2 separate regions of the Homo sapiens genome follow, and region 2 is linked to region 1. The links come from fine-mapping of genetic effects on gene expression. Tissue or cell type: whole blood. Region 1 holds a variant in brackets; the other region holds the start of a gene. All regions are shown on one strand. Distances are between the middles of the regions.

What was found. PIP is the estimated chance that this variant, and not a neighbour inherited with it, causes the effect.
Region 2: it holds the start of LPCAT2, and the variant in region 1 is fine-mapped to the expression of LPCAT2 in whole blood (TOPMed, PIP 0.95).

What each region holds. Positions count from the first base shown.
Region 1 is chr16:55,579,201-55,587,349 of GRCh38, reverse strand. It overlaps LPCAT2 (lysophosphatidylcholine acyltransferase 2), which reads right to left. Exons shown (of 14, transcript NM_017839.5): 13 at 8,106-8,149; 14 at 684-4,436. The coding sequence ends at 4,252. Among named protein-coding and RNA genes, the nearest start is that of CAPNS2, 17 kb to the right of the region's middle. The variant C/A (reference allele first, on the strand shown) is at 4,060.
Region 2 is chr16:55,505,555-55,513,709 of GRCh38, reverse strand. It overlaps LPCAT2 (lysophosphatidylcholine acyltransferase 2), which reads right to left and starts at 4,638. Exons shown (of 14, transcript NM_017839.5): 1 at 4,358-4,638. The coding sequence starts at 4,528. MMP2 (matrix metallopeptidase 2) reads right to left here. Exons shown (of 13, transcript NM_004530.6): 13 at 7,019-8,155.

The DNA of each region.
Region 1 (8,149 bases):
ATGGTTAAAATTACCATACTCCATGTAATCTATAATAATAATATCAAATTTTTCCTGTAATAAAAGTAGTTTAAACCCAATTTTAATAATTATAAAATCTTCAGCAGATTTCTCAGTAAGTTTTAGCAAACTATTTCTAATTATGAACTACTATGGAATATTGAGTTGGATTTTTTAATAGATCCCAAATGAAAATCAAACTCATATTGAGAGCTGAATCCAGTTGGGCTTCTGTGTCGGGTGGGGACTTGGAGAACTTTTCTGGCTAGCTAGAGGATTGTAAATGCACCAATCAGCATTCTGTAAAAAATAGACCAATCAGCACTCTGTAAAATGGACCAATCAGGAGGACATGAGTGGGGCCAAATAAGGGAATAAAAGCTGGCCACCTGGGCAAGTGGTGGCAACCCGCTGGGGTCCCTTTCCATGCTGTGGAGCCTGTGTTGTTTTGCTTTTCACAATAAATCTTGCTGCTGCTCACTCTTTGGGTCCGCACCAACTTTAAGAGCTGTAACACTCACTGCGAGGTCGTGGCTTCATTCTTGAAGTCAGTGAGACCACGAACCCACTGGAGGAACAACCAACTCTGGACGCGCCACCTTTAAGAGCTATAACACTCACAGTGAGAGCCGTCGCTTCATTCTTGAAGTCAGCAAGACCAAGAACCCACCAGAAGAAATAAATTCTGGACACAATATGTTTAATATTAGAAGAATGATTACACATAGCTTGTTACAGATTTCCAAAAAACAGTAGGTACAGTTTTTAAAATTTACATTCACAGAGAATTTTAATGACATTGGAAAATGTAAGAAACTTTGAAAAAAGATGGAGTAAAATATGTATAAAATTGATAATAGTTGATTTAGGGTGGTAGAAGTAAACATAATTTTTTCTGTTTATATTTTTCTCTATCTTTTAAATTTTGCTAATGTGCATAGATTCTTTTAAAATAATAAGAAAATAATAAGGTTAATACGTTATAAAAAATAGGGACCTGGCTGTTGAAGTGCGATGGAGACAATTTGTTAGAACATGTGGCTTGTTACACAGACGCTTGAGAAGTTTGTTGAGAGAGAACGATTACCTAGAAACAAGAGTTACAGTAAATGGGGTAAAAAGGGCAAAAGTTCTTCAGATTACTATCCTATTTACCAAAGTTTGTGATATGTATTTTGAATATATGTGAAGAGCTTCACTTCTATCAAGCCATAGCACTTATTTGTCACTCTGATATAACAATTTAACATAAAATTGAGTTCATTCAAATGAGCAGAAAAGGAAAAAAATGTAAGTATGTCTACTTTCCCGGGAATGGTCTTGCACCAGTATCTTTCTATTCATGTTAGCATTTTCTATGTAAGAAACAAATACCCAAAGACTTTTGTAGTAGAGACTCCATCTGTTCCAATATAGTCAATATCCTTCTATTTGAGCATCAATTAGTGGCCTTCAATTAACCACCTTGCATTCGGTAATAGTCTGAAGGGGAGAGTTCTTGATTCTGGGAATCAAAGAGCTTTACTGCTGTGCCTCATGCAGAGAGCAGACCAGATGTCTTCTAAAAGCGAGGCAGTCTCCTTTAAATATGCATTAGAGCTAGCATTACTATCACACTTAGCCTTCCAAGGCTCTAAAAGCAGTGGCAAAGGAGGGCTAAACATACAAAATGCAAGCAACTTGGTCTGTAAGCAGTCAGTATGTCATTATCCTTCAACAGAACTCTTTCAATTGAATGTTTGTGGTTTAGAGGTTTTAGGATATAATATTTCTCACTTCAAAGAGTTTTTTTATATTACTATATGAAGCCATGGTGCATTTAACTGACTTAATAAAATGTAATTCTTACTTTAAGTCTTGAGAGGAGAAAAGCCTCTGTGAAAGAAATCTTTGTTAGCAAGGCATATAAGCAGAGTCCTGGTCTGCAATAATATTGATGATCACGACTTGTGTGTTACTATATAAAATTCAACCAGTCAAAATTCAACATCTTTAAGAATATTGCTACTTTGGGCAAAATTTGAGTTTCATTAGAGTAAAATCATTTCTGACATTTCATAAAGTTTAATGCAAACAAAAATGATTAATCATTCATAAATATGTAAACATATGATATTAAAAGGGTATATTACATTTGAGACAAAATGGCAGAATCAGAATTTTTTTAATTGCTAAGAATTTTATGTAGCAAGTTTGTTTATTCAGTAACATAATCACAAAATAGAAATATCACATTCACAGAAGTGGAAATAAAGAGCATAAAATATTTTTAAAACAGGAAAGCAATGGGATCACTTTCAAGAGCCTCAAAGAAAACCTTTAATTTACAATGCTACGCTTTCATGATTAATAGGATTAATGTGTGGTTTTTCTTTGATAAAAGTAGTCATGATTTTTTAGTATTACATACATTCATTGCATATGACAGACACTCTGATAAAAATGTACTGTTCTAATTACTTAATTGTTTTGGCTCATTTAACACCTTGTTTAAATAGCTTTAAGACATATAAGAGGCAAATAATTATATATACTTAAGGATAAAATTTTCAGATATTTATCCAAACACACATTTACCCATTAAATTAGAACACTAACTGCTTAATATGTAAAACTAGTTTGAAATCATGACTCTTGATTAAATACATACTTCAACATCTCTCATGAGACTTCCCAACTTCAAAAATGACTTTAAAAAATTAGCTTGGGGGTGAATCACCAATACATTCAGAAACACGGCCAAAACAAGGAGTTTTATTTCAAAGACTGAATTCAGAAAATGAACCAACTATTTTTGTACATTATATTAATAAATTGGTTCTTTGTTGAAAACCTCAAACATGAATGATATTAGCAATATGCATGTGTGAGACCCATTAAAAATGACAATTCAAAAAAATTACTGCTTAACCTAAAGGAAAAATGTTACTGTTGGATTCCTGCCTGGGGCTTAAATTGTGGTCTTGCATTAATAAAGTACGTTTGTTGATTCCCTAGCTTTGGGTGATACCTTGAAACCTTTTGTGTTTTCTGGGAGATATTTCACACAAGTTCTAAAATTTGAGAGTCCACTTAACAAAATAAAATTCCCACTTACATGATAATATATTAATTCTAATATTATATAAATAGAACAAATCTGATTCATTTATAGGGCAAGTGCTACATTCTGAACTATCTAACTCAAATTAAATTCAACTCTGTGGCAAACAATTCATTTTCTTATTAGGCAATCAATGTTACCTTCAATAAGGCAATTCCCATTTACCTTCTGGCCATAGCAGTTGTCTTAAAACCAAGTTCTAAACCTGTAGTTCATGTAAAAGGATATGATTTCCTTAGCAAGTAGTTAAGAAAATCTACAATAGGCCGGGAACGGTGGCTCACACCTGTAATCCCAGCACTTTGGGAGGCTGAGGTGGGTGGATCACCTGAGGTCAGGAGTTCGAAACCAGCCTGGCCAACATGGCAAAACCACATGGCTACTAAAAATACAAAAATTAGTCGGGTGTGGTGGTGGGCACCTGTAATCCCAACTACTCGGGAGTCTGAGGTACGAGAATCACTTGAACCCAGGAGGCAGAGGTTGCAGTGAGCTGAGATTGCACCACTGCACTCCAGCCTGGGTGACAGAGCAAGACTCCATCTCAAAAAACAAAACAAAACAAAAAACTACAATAGAGATGTATGTCAAAGAGAATATAAGTTCTTAAGAAGCTGCGTCTAATTAGTGAAGCTCTCCCTTCCCATATTCAGTGATCCAAGAAACTGAAATTTAAATGGAAAAATGAATCTGTAAAGTTATAGATGTCAAATTCTCAGATTCTTCATTGTTATTTCCCAAGTGGAAAAGGATTAGAAATAATAGAATATTATTGATTTTTAGAGGAAAGTAGATTAAAAAGTGTTTACATTTTTAAAACTTTATACAGTGTTGCTCAATGCTCACCAATAGACCATTGCATTCATTTGTATATGCAAATTAAACTGGAAAATCCATAAAAACATATGTATCACCAGTAAATGAATCAGTAAAGTACAATATAACACAAAAGAAAA[C/A]GAAATATTGCTTGATTTTTTCCAATAAAAGCAAGGTTAATAAAAACATTTTTAGTAAGAAAATCTATCATTTTTGTTTTAAAAATCTTTCAATTTTAAACATCATTACCAACACATTAAAAGTATTATCAATAAGTGCCTTTACAATTTCAAGCAAAAGCTACTGTGTTTTCCTTATTGGAAATACTGCTTTCAGTCATCTTTTTTGTCTGAGGTACTCTCTTCATGCTTTTCAGGGCTGACTTTATTACTGGCGGTGGAGGGGGTTGTCTGGACTTCTTTTGGTAATGAAAACACATGGCACGTCTGGAGGTCTAGGTATGTTGTAAATATCTTAGCATATTCTGGATGCTTTAAGGCAAAACTTTTAAATTCCTCTAGAAGAGAAAGAAAAAAAATCCAATAAGTTGGGGTGAATCTTCTTTTGGCATGATGCAGATTAATAAATGACTCTAATAATGCAATTATTACAAAATTCTACTACCCAACACACAAACATTGCTGATGAAAATATAAGTTGTACAACCACTTTGGGAGATAGTTTTTCCATTATCTAGTCAAGTTGAAGATATACATACTCTTTGACCCATTAATTCTACTCTGAGGTATATATCCTAGAGAAATTTGTGCATATTGTGCTCTGAGAGACATGTATGAGAATGTTCACAGCAACATTATTTATAATAGATAAAAAATAAAAACAACTTGGATGTCCATCAACAGTAGAAATGCATAAATAAATTGTGTCATACTCATGGAACATAAGGCCATATGGCAATGAAAATGAATAAACAGCTATGTAGAAACAATGTGGATTAATCTTAAAGCCATAATGTTTAATGAAAAAAGCAAGATATAAAGTAACACATAATTGTATGAGTCTATTTATATAAAGCCCAAAAACTTAGACAAAACTAAAATTTAATATTTAAAGGTACATACTTTAGGGGTGAACTGTTAAAGTAAAATAAAGCAAGGCAGAGATTCCTTTTTAAGTCAGGATAACAACCCCCTTCTTTAAGAGAGAGGTAGGGGTGTGGTTGGGAAAGGGCACACAGGGGTTTCTGGAGTTGTGGAAAAGCTCTATTTCTTGACTTGAATGGTAGTTACATGGGTGTTCACTTTATAAAACTTCGTTGTGCTTTATATGTTTTATTTAGTTTTCTGTATTTTTGTTCTTTCTAGCAATTTAAAAAATGTTTAAAAAATTATATTACCCACCACTTTCTATAATTGGTTTTTAAAACCATTTGAGCCCTTAACTCTGGTACAGAAAAATACAGTCTTAAAAAGCTGAGCCTTGATTTGTAATCAATAATGGATAGGAAAGTGTACAATATATAATAATCATACCACAAGACCTCCAAGTAGAGGAGTTCTTTTTATCTCAAGTGTTTTAGAAGCTGAGATAGGGCTACAGAAGGCTTACTTAGTTAACTATCAGGACTTGAACCTCAATCCTCCAGTAACCTGGAGTTTCTGAAATATTATTCTGTCTTCTATTTTGAAATCCTTCTATTCTCTTCTTTTGGGTGGATAAAACTTTATTGAGCTTATTAGAGCAAAGATAGCATGGTCTTTGGATTAGCTGCCATTTGGCTCTATAATAAAATAATGTTAACTAAATGTCCTATTTCTATACATTTACTTTTAAAAAATCCTCTGATAAGCAAGGGTCTGCTTCATGACACATTAGGCTACCTAACTCTTGAATATAAAAATAGGTCTTAGTCTGCAGTGACCTCTGATCATGCCACTGCACTCCAGCCTGGGCAACAGAGTGAGACCGTATCTCAAAAAAACAAATAAACAAACAGGTCTTAGTGATGAGGAAGTCACCAGATTGAACTCAAATCATTATTTGCAATTGCAATGTTGTTTTGCATTAATAAACCACTTTTTATTTCTAAATCAGGCAAACTACTAACTGTTCTTTTTTAACTTCCAAAATAAAGGTTCTTGTTTCTAGGGATACATTATAGAAAAAAATAAAAATAGATGAAGTTTAATCTACATGAGTCTGTTTCAATGACGGAGACACATAGAAGACTTAAGTGACTTTGAAGATAAGTGAGCATGACAGTTGATCTACTGAAACCAAGAACTTTAATTTCAAGACTTGTGCTATGGCCAAAAGATCAAGATCCTCTGTTGGGATGTCAGTGGCATTAAAGAGTAACTCATTGCTGGAAGTCCTGTGATTGACTCTATGTGGAATTTGAGCATTAATTTAGATAATGGAAAACTGAAAATAAAGTAATTTAAGGCAGCAGTCCCCAACCATTTTGGCACCAGGGACTGGTTTCATGGAAGACAATTTTTCCATGGATGGTAAAGGGGATTGGGGAGATGGTTTCAGGATGAAACTGTTCAACCTCAGATCATCAAGCATTGGATTCTCATAAGGAACGTGCAACCTAGATCCCTCACATGTGCAGTTCACAATAGGGTTCATGCGCTCCTATGAGAATCTAATGCCTCCACTGATCAGATAGGAGGCGGAGTTCAGGCTCTAATGCTCACTCGCCTGCCACTCACCTCCTGCTGTGTAACTCCGTTCCTAATGGCCACAGATCGGCACCGGTCCATGGCCTAAGGGTTGGGAACCCCTGATTTAAAGGATCACATTTAAACAATCTAAATGGTCACATTCATGACATTTATCAATATCTACTTTTTAAACAAAATTATACTTAAATACTTCAAACATTCTTGAAAAAAATAGCAGATTTGCCTAATATTGGGAAAGGGGAGATATTCTGTATTCTGCAAAGAAAAAGGTTGAACTCCAAAAAACAAAGCAGATTTCCCTGAAAAATTACTTAAATCAACAGGTTATTATGGCTATCTACAAATCATTTTTAGTATTAGCTTCCATTGAAGTAGTTATTCCAACTAGTTTTTCAAAATTTAGTAGTTTGGAGTAATAGTCTTCCTTATGAAAATAGCCAGAGAAGAATTAGTACACTTGAATTTATGACTCATAAGTTTCATCTCAGTATTTACACTTCCCATTTTATCCTGTTTTTTCAAATGAACTCAATAGATTAAGTGCCCTAGGCATTTAATTACCTAAATGACAGTAATTAAAAACAGAGAGTAAGAGAAGTATGTGATCTACTTTTCCCATCCCATGAAAGTTAACAAGCTGAAACTCTTGAACACCATAAGGAAAGAGTAATTAAAGAGGAGTCTCCATCCAGCCTCAGGGGAAAGACTGGGGAAGATAAGCCAGCTTGACATCCATGACCACATCAAACCCAAGACAGGGAAACAATTATCTTGGTCTCTCCATTGAGGTGTGTTTCTCAACAACTGCACTGTGAATATAGAGAAGCTTCAGTCCAGTGCAACTTGTTTTGATGGGTGGACTTGAGCCATCAAGAGAAAAGACAGTTACTGATGGATAGACCTGCCACTTTGCCACAAGGTCTTTCTCCATGATAGACCCTAACTCACAGGAGTTGCTAACAAGATGGCATGAGACAAGGAATGTGAAAAGTTACATAGGTCACTAATAGTAAACATCAATAAATCGTTTAGCTACTATTATTGTTGGTGCCTCAGTCCATGTTCCTTTACTATAGTTGCAACCTACTTGGTTTACTTGTTCAGTTTTGCCTGGCCACACTGAAAGCAGAGATCACTAAAGTGTAGAGTCAATAGTGCAGGCTCCAAAGTCAAACTGTTTTGGTTTTTGAATTGTGGCTCTGATGTTCTTTAGCTAAATTGTCTTAGATAAGTTACTTAAAGTCTTTGTATCTTAGTAAAACAAGAATAATTAAGAATACCGATTAGATAGGCTTGCTATAAAGATTAAATGGGTTAATATATATAAAATGTTTAGAAGAGTGCCTAGCATATAAGTCCTCAATAATTAGCTATGACTATTATGCCATTACTACTATTATTACTGTGGTCATCAATATTACTATTATGTCTATTATTAATGTAATTAGTTAAGAGAAACAGTACTCTTGAGCATCAGTCCATAGTCTGGATGTCCTCCTTGTAAACTAAGTCAGGAGGCCAGATTGCCTACTCACCATAGGAAATTGAGTCCCCTTGGGCTATTTCCTTGAAGAGACCA
Region 2 (8,155 bases), 74 kb after region 1:
TATGACTGTAGGCCGTTGGTTTTTAAGGCTACTACAGAGCTGAGGATGAGGAATTAGAATAAAATTAAACTGTAACGAAGCCTACTATTCTAACTAAGAGTCAGCACTCTTAAATAAATGCTCCTTGGATTGTTGAAAGCCTTTGGTTAATTTTCAGAGCTAAGACAAAGTTGATTCTGATTTTTTTTTTTTGTTTTCATTGCTTTTATAGAGAAGATAATTTTCAGAGGCCTTTACTTCATCAGTTTTGCTGATGTCTCATCTCAGTTTTTTTCATTCTGCTTTTTAGACTGAATAATTTCTAGTGACCTATCTTCAAGTTCACTAACACCTTCTTCTACCATCTTCAATGTGTTGTTGAGCCCATCCAGTGAATTTTTCATTTCAGATATAACAGTTTTCAGTTTTGAATGCCCATTTGGTTCTCTTTTACATTTTCTATTTCTCTGCTAAGCTCCTTCCAACTATTCATTCATTATGCCATTCTTTACTTTTAAGTCCTTGAGCATTTTTATAATAGCTCCTTTCAAGTATTTTTCTGCGAAGTCCTACATTTGATCATCTTAGGGTCTGTTTTTATTGCCTGATTTTTCTTTTGATCACAGGTCACATTTTCCTATTTCTTTGAATGTCTAGTACAGTTTTTATAGTATTTTGGCCATTTTGGGTGATATATTACAGATATTCTGGATTCTGTTATCCTTTTCTAAAGAATGTTGATTTCTGTCCTGGCAGGTAGGTAAAATTCTGGCTGATTGCATTCACTTTGTGAAGGCTTAGTTTTATACTTTTTTAGGGAAAATTTGTTTGAAGCTAGCCCTTAGTCTTAGACTGAAGCCTTAGTCCTAGGGTATAGGACTAGCTTTTCTCCTATGGTATCACCTTTGTGAGGTTTCAGTGTAAAGCCTGAGATGTTTGCCAAGGCCCCCTTAATTGGTGGGATTCTAACTGTGCCTTCCCTGTGGTGTCTATCAGTTGAAATGTCTGCTCAGTTTCTTCTTCCTTCCAGCTGTTACTTTCCTCCAGAGTCCTTGAAGGCTCCTTTGTAAATACACAGCTCAGGAATCGGCCAAGGTTTTGAGATCATTTATATGCCAATTTAGGGGCTCCCTCATTTCTAGTTTCCTCCTTTCTGGGACTTCCACCTTCGATTTTTAGTCACTTTGATAGTCTTGAACTTTGTGCTCTGATATATCATGTCAATCAATAAGGCTGAGGCTTTCTAGCAATCCCTTCATGTGGTGTCAAGTGATAACCTTCAGGGAAAAAAAGGGGCTGGGGTAATGTTACACAGTATAGAAGTATTATTTCAAGAAACAAATCCCTCCAGTTTCTGTCTGATTTGTGTTGCTCTATAGTGCCTTCGTGTAGTTTTTCATATTTTGACTAGGGTTTATAATTGTTTGTCTACATTGTCTACATTGAGCTACTCCACCATTCCTGAGACTAAAACTAGTCCTGTTAAATTATTATTATTCACTTGAAAACTGACTTACAAATATAATGAAACTTATGCTATCAGTCTTATTTCCTATAAAACAGAATACGTATTAGGTAAGATGAGTAGGAGTTTCAGAACTATAATATAGAAGGGATCTTGGATCCAGGAGATTTTTCTTGAAGCTCTGTGTACATGGTAAGCACACTATTTTTAGCTAATGTTATATTTATTTGAATGGTGGTGCAATGAAGTATGGTGGTATACTGGGGAAGAGTACTGTGGAGAAGATGAGACGACTCAAATTCCCAAGTCACTCTGGTAGGTCACTGGCTGAGATTCTCTTCAAAGAGGTATCATTATTAAAAAACAAGCAATAATCTTGACTGAAAGAAAGGACCATATAGCATAGACCCTGAAGAAAGAGTTGGAATGAGTTTAAAGTATATTAGCATAAGAGTCACTCATGTCTACACTGAGCAACCCATATGGATTTTAATTGAACAAGTTGCAAAATATTAGGCAACTTTTTTTTCTGTGCCATCTTCAAGGTTTGCAACAAATAATAGTGTCTAACAGTAAATCAATTTTGAGTTAACTCATTGACAAATTAAGAGAATTCATCATATTTCCATTTGGTAATATGTCATCTCCATTGGGTGGCCTTCTCTCAGTGTTATTCTCTGGTTTTCCTTCATTACACTTACTAAAACATGAGATTATATATTTTTGTACTTGTTTGTTTAACTATCTTAGTGAAATGTGAGGACAACAGTCCTTAAGCAAGACATTGATCATCATTTAAGATTAAACTTAGTCTAAATTAATCATACTAAGTCATACTTAAATGAAAGTGTGTCCACCTTTTAAACTGGATAATATGGACATTGTTTTTCTACCATGCCTATTCAAATCTTCCCTTTACCCAGATGATTCAAGCCACTGAAACCTCTTGTATCTCTGATCTATATAAATTTAAAAAGTATTTTTAATATCCAGACTTTGTTAAATCCCATTTAATCCAAGTAGTAAATTTTAAGTACAGTATATACTTTGTAGAAAATATATAGGATAACTATCAATATTATCAATATTAAGATCAACAAACAATAACAGATTATTTCACTTAATTGTAGCCCTCCTTTGAGTTATTAATATTCCAATGTAATAGACGAGAAAAGTATAGTTCAGAGAGGTTAAGTGACTTGGCCAAAGTCATACAACTAATAAATGACCAGTTCCTATAACTGACTAGCTATCATTCCATTATACTATAACTCTCAGAGAGTTATTTGGAAGAGATCTTTAAACAGTAACAAACCAGGTGATGGAAAAACTTAATAATTTATTATAGGTGCAATATAAATATTTGTCAACATTCCATGCTGTTTCTTTCCAAAATATGAAGTCAAATAGATGGGCATATTTTCATTTAAGTATGATTTAATTAAATCAGACTAAATTTAATCTTGAACAATGGTCTATGTATTTACAAATGTTTCAGAATGTGAAGACACAAAAAGAATATCTATTAATTTAAAGACATGAGGATCACATTTTTAAACGTTTAATTTCCTCACAAAGCAGTATTACTACATTCTTTATCTTCTTCCTCTCTCACACCCCTCTTCAACCAGACACCCATCTACCATTACTCAAGCCACCACCTGTGTTGTTTAGCTCTGCACTTAACCTTCCCCCACTGTAGAGGACAATGGTCTTAGTGCATACAAGCTGATTGCAAATATTATACTGCTTCAAATCCAAAGTAATGTGTGAGATGGACATGAAAACTTCAAAATTGTTCCCCCACCCCCCCAACCCCCGCAGAACACACGGACAAATGTGGTTAGCAGGGTCTATCTTGTTCTCTGATCACTAACTTCAACAAAGAGGAAGTCCAAAGAGTGCAACTGCCAATGGTAAAAGGAACCCTTTACAAGAAAAAGGAAAGGAAAGGAAACTTCCTTTGTGCATAACAGTATAGCCATTTTTAACAATGGAAAACAGCCTGGGCTACTACTTCTCATGCTTCAACTTAGGAAACGTTTTTAGGTGAAGACTGATTCTGGACCAAAACTTCTTGAACATCCTAAGCTGACTCAGTTGTCCCTTTTCTTTGATTCTGACTTCCCACCCTCCATCATGCTCCTGCTCAGCTAAATCTTTCCAGCCTTACCTGTTGTTCTAACCACAGACCTAGGCTCTCTGCCTTCTGCCTCACTCTTATCCATCCCATACTGACTCCTCTCCTTCCTAAGGCAAAAAAAAAAAAAAAAAGACTTCTTCAAATCTACTCTCCCGTAGTAGATCTGCCTCCCACTACACTCTCATAAACTCAAGTTGAAGCTTCTGTCACAGATTCACAGATTCCTTCAACCTTCTGGGGCATGGAATGTAGCCTGCGCCACCAGCCAGCTCAGTCTCTTCCTGTTTTGGATTCTCCTCTCAGGCCCGCATCTTCCCAGCATCTTCTCTCCTCCCGTGCCCGCTCAGACCATCCTCTAAATGTCCTCAATTCTCAGACACACATCTCCGCCCCTTTCAGGCTCACGGCCCCTCAGAAGTCCTCTCCTCTCAGATCCACTGCTCTTTCTTCCTCTGATGCCTTTGCTTCCCAGACCCACAACGCCCCTCAGACCCACGCGCCCCTCGACCGCCCTCCCCCGTCAGACCTACACCAGTCACCTGGACCCGCCCCAGACCCTGGCTCCCCTCGGGCCACCTCCCTCCTCAGACCCATGCCCCCTTCAGGCCACCTCCCTCCTCAGACTCTCGCCCGCCTCGGACCACCTCACTCCCTCAGACCCACGCCCCCCTCGGCCGCCCTCCTCTCTCAGACCCACACCCCTTACCTGGACCCCCCTCTGACCTAGGCCCCCCTCAGACCACCTCTCCCCTCAGACCCACGCCCCTCACCTGGACCCGCCTCGCGGAGCCGATCTGCGTCTGCTGCACGAAGGGGTTCGGCACCGGCGGCGGGAAGAAGGACGCCTGACGGGGCACCATGGGCGGCCGCAGCCCCACGTTCCCGACGCCGGCACCTGGCACTGTGGCCGCCACTTCCGCCGCCTGGGCGCACCGGCTCATAGTTGAGCCGGGCGTAGAACCCGGCCGAAGCGATCTACGCGGGCGCTGCAGCCAAAACTGAGCCGAAGACCTACTAGAGTCCCAGCCTAGGGCGACGCTGGGGAGCCTCTGCGCAGGCGCTGAAGTTACTTAGACGCCTGCTGCTGCCGCCCTGCCCCTTCGGCTGTGACACGCCCCAGGCTCTGGCCACACCCCCTCAGGCATCTGGCTCCACCCCCTTGGTAATATAGTCCATCCCCTCGGAGGGGAATGTTTTCCTTCCGAGCCAAGACCCTGAAGGGTACCCCAGGATCCCTAACATTCCACAGCGAGACACTAGGCAGAGTTCCCTGCTTTAGGGTCGGACGGACCTGGATTTTCAATCCCTTTTACTGGGCCTGTGACGCTGGCCAAATCACTATCTCTATGAACCTCGGTTGCCTTCCGTAAAATGCAGATAAATGTATTCTCAGATAATCCTAACCTGGATCCAGTAATGCCATTGAGCAACCACTTCCCCTGGGCTGTTCCATTAAGTGAGCTAATATTAATACACCCATGATGGCACTAGGAGTGGAATTTGTTTCACTCAAAACATAATGGACTGACAGGGGAGAGATGGTTCTCCAGAGGAAAACTGAGCTACTATTACCAGAAAAGGCAAAAATTACAGTTGCCCTCCACGCTAGATGAGGAACCTGACCCAGAAAAGGGAAATGTATTGGGCTGTGGCTCCCTTTCACACTGAGGAAGTTCAAGCCTGTTTGGACCTATGTGGGTGCTCGTGGGGGTGGGAGGGCAGGGGTTTGTCCCATTATCTGAGGACAGTTGATCAACCCTGAGTGGCTGAGAGTTAAAGGAAGGAGATGATAATCAACTCATCCCAACTGATCAACTCTTCTCACAGCAGGTAGGAAGGCCAGGATGAAAATCTGAGTCTGAGCCCTGGGGTTCTCCAAAGTTACCCTCTGAATGTCAGAATCTTCCAGCCCTACCACATAGATGTGTGGCCTTGAGTCAGTCACTTAACCTGAGTTTGCTTCCTTGTCTAGGAATGGGAGATTCATTCTAACTCCATAGAATTGTAGCAAGGATTAAATAAAATAATGCATGTGTAGTGTTCATAGAGAAACACTGAAGAAATGGCATGTTTTAAGCATTATTATGTTGTGGAGCCACTGACTTTTCTCTCAGTGTAACAGGGAACATTAATAACAGTGCATTACAGCCATGATAGAAGATTCCCCAGTCTAGGGGGTCTTCAAGTTGGGACTGGCAGACCCTTGAGACTCTTTAGCCAGATACCTGCACAGAAAGATGTCTTTCCAACTGTCAACAACCTAAGCCAGGCCAGGTGCAGTGGCTCACGCCTGTAATCCTAGCACTTTGGGGGCTGAGGAGGGTGGATCCCTTGAGCCCAGGAGTTCGAGACCAGCCTGGGCAACAAAGAGAGACTCCACCATCTCTAAAAAAAATTAAAAATTAGCTGGCTGTGCTGTTGCATGCCTGCAGTCCCAGCTACTCAGGAGGCTGAAGTGGGAGGATTGCTTGAGCCCAGAAGATCAAGTCTGCAGTGAGCTATGATCATGCCATTGCACTCCAGCCTGGGTGACAGAGAAAGACACTGTCTCAAAAAAGAAAAAAAAAGAAGAAGAAGAAACAAAAAGAATCTGAGTCAAGGGGACAGGCCATGGGAGGATAAAAGATAGAAAAGATGGGGCCGAGAGTGGTGGCTCACACCAATAATCCTAGCACTTTGGGAGGCCGAGATGGGTGGATTGCCTGATCTCAGGAGTTCGAGACCAGCCTGGGCAACACGGTGATACCTGTCTCTACCAAAATACAAAACAAATTAGCTGGGTATGGTGGCGTGCACCTGTAATCCCAGCTACTTGGGAGGCTGAGGCAGGAGAATCACTTAAACCTGGGAGGCAGAGGTTACAGTGAGCCGAGATTGCGCCATTGCACTCCAGCCTGGGTGACAGAGTGAGACTCCATCTCAAAAACAGAAAAAAGAGATAGAAACAATGACATCAGGCTCACTGAGGAGGTCACCTGTAGAGTTCACTCCTTACGCACCTTCCTCACCAGCCCCATCATAAGAGGCCAGAAGCAATATATATACTATCAATCAGACTATCGGAGCCAGAAAGGGCCTCAGAAAAACCCCAGGCCTTCAATTTCTGTTCAGCAGTAGCTCCAGAATTTCTATGTAGGAGATTAGGAGTGGGTAGACTGGTAGGAAGGAGTAAGGAGCTTATCCATTAATACCAGCTGTGTTTAGAAGCAAGCACAGTATTTCTCCCTTAGCTGTGTTTACCCAGCGTGGTTTTGGGGGTGGTGGAGGGTAGCAGGAGCGGTTTTGAAGGTGGTGGGGGTGTTTTTGAGGGTGGCGGAGGGTGGTGAGATTCTGGTTTGAGAGCTAAAGCTCCTCTGCTAGGCTATCCTTTGGCCTTGTAGGTCCCTAATAGCTATGGGACCCTGGAAAAATCACTTCTCTTGAGCCATCAGTCTCTTCATCAATAAGATTCAACTAATAATGGCCTTTTTTATTTATGTGGTTGGAAAGGTTAAAATAGGTGACACGTGAAAAGTGCCTTGCACATAGAAAGCACTCTATTAATTGAGGGGGATATTATTGTTACTGTTCATTGTTAGTAGTAGCATTAAAACTGATATGATTGCTAATGAAGAAACAGACTTAAAGAGGAAGCAAACCTCGAACAGATGCCACAATAAAGCAACAAAATTGCTGATTCTTCAGGGCTCTTTCTACAGGACAGAGGGACTAGAGCTTACTCTCCCTGAGGTTCTCTTGCTGTTTACTTTGGAAGCTCTGACCTTTCCAGCAGACACCATCACCTGTGCCCTGCAGGGAGCAGAGATTCGGACTTTTTAAGTTTCCGCTTCTGGCTGGGTCTGTGGCCCTTGTCTAGGCTCTGCTAAAACAGATGGCAAACACGGCCACTCAGTAGGTGTCTTTATTCATACTTGTTGACATTTCCCATGGGGAATGGTTGAAGGGAGGGGCAGGGAGGGCTGAGCGGGAAGCCACGGCTTGGTTTTCCTCCATCCAGTGGAGAAGAGACTCGGTAGGGACATGCTAAGTAGAGTGAACAGGGGAACCATCACTATGTGGGCTGAGATGCACTGTGCAGTGACTTCAGACAACCTGAGTCCTTCTGTCAGGAAATGCAATTTCTAAGTGGAAAAAAAAAACAAGACCCAAAGAAAAAAACAAAGTGCATACAAAGCAAACTGCTAATGTAAGAAAGGTTCTAAGGCAGCCAGCAGTGAAAAGCCAGGGGTCTGGAGTGGCCACCTGGCCATGCCCTGTCCCACTGCCCTGTGCCAGGCTGTCGGGCCACCAGTGCCCTCTTGAGACAGTCTCCATTGGCTCCAAGGGTTCTGTGAGCCACAGAAGGTTGTGAAAGGAGAAGAGCCTGAAGTGTGGCAGCACCAGGGCAGCCCAAAGCAGGGCTGCGTTGAAAATATCAAAGTATCTCTTTAGGGGTGGCTCTGAGGGTTGGTGGGATTGGAGGGGGAAGGGGCGCCTGGGAGGAGTACAGTCAGCATCTATTCTTGGGCACCGGGAGGAGCCACTCTCTGGAATCTTAAATTACCAGGTAGGAGTGAGAATGCTGATTA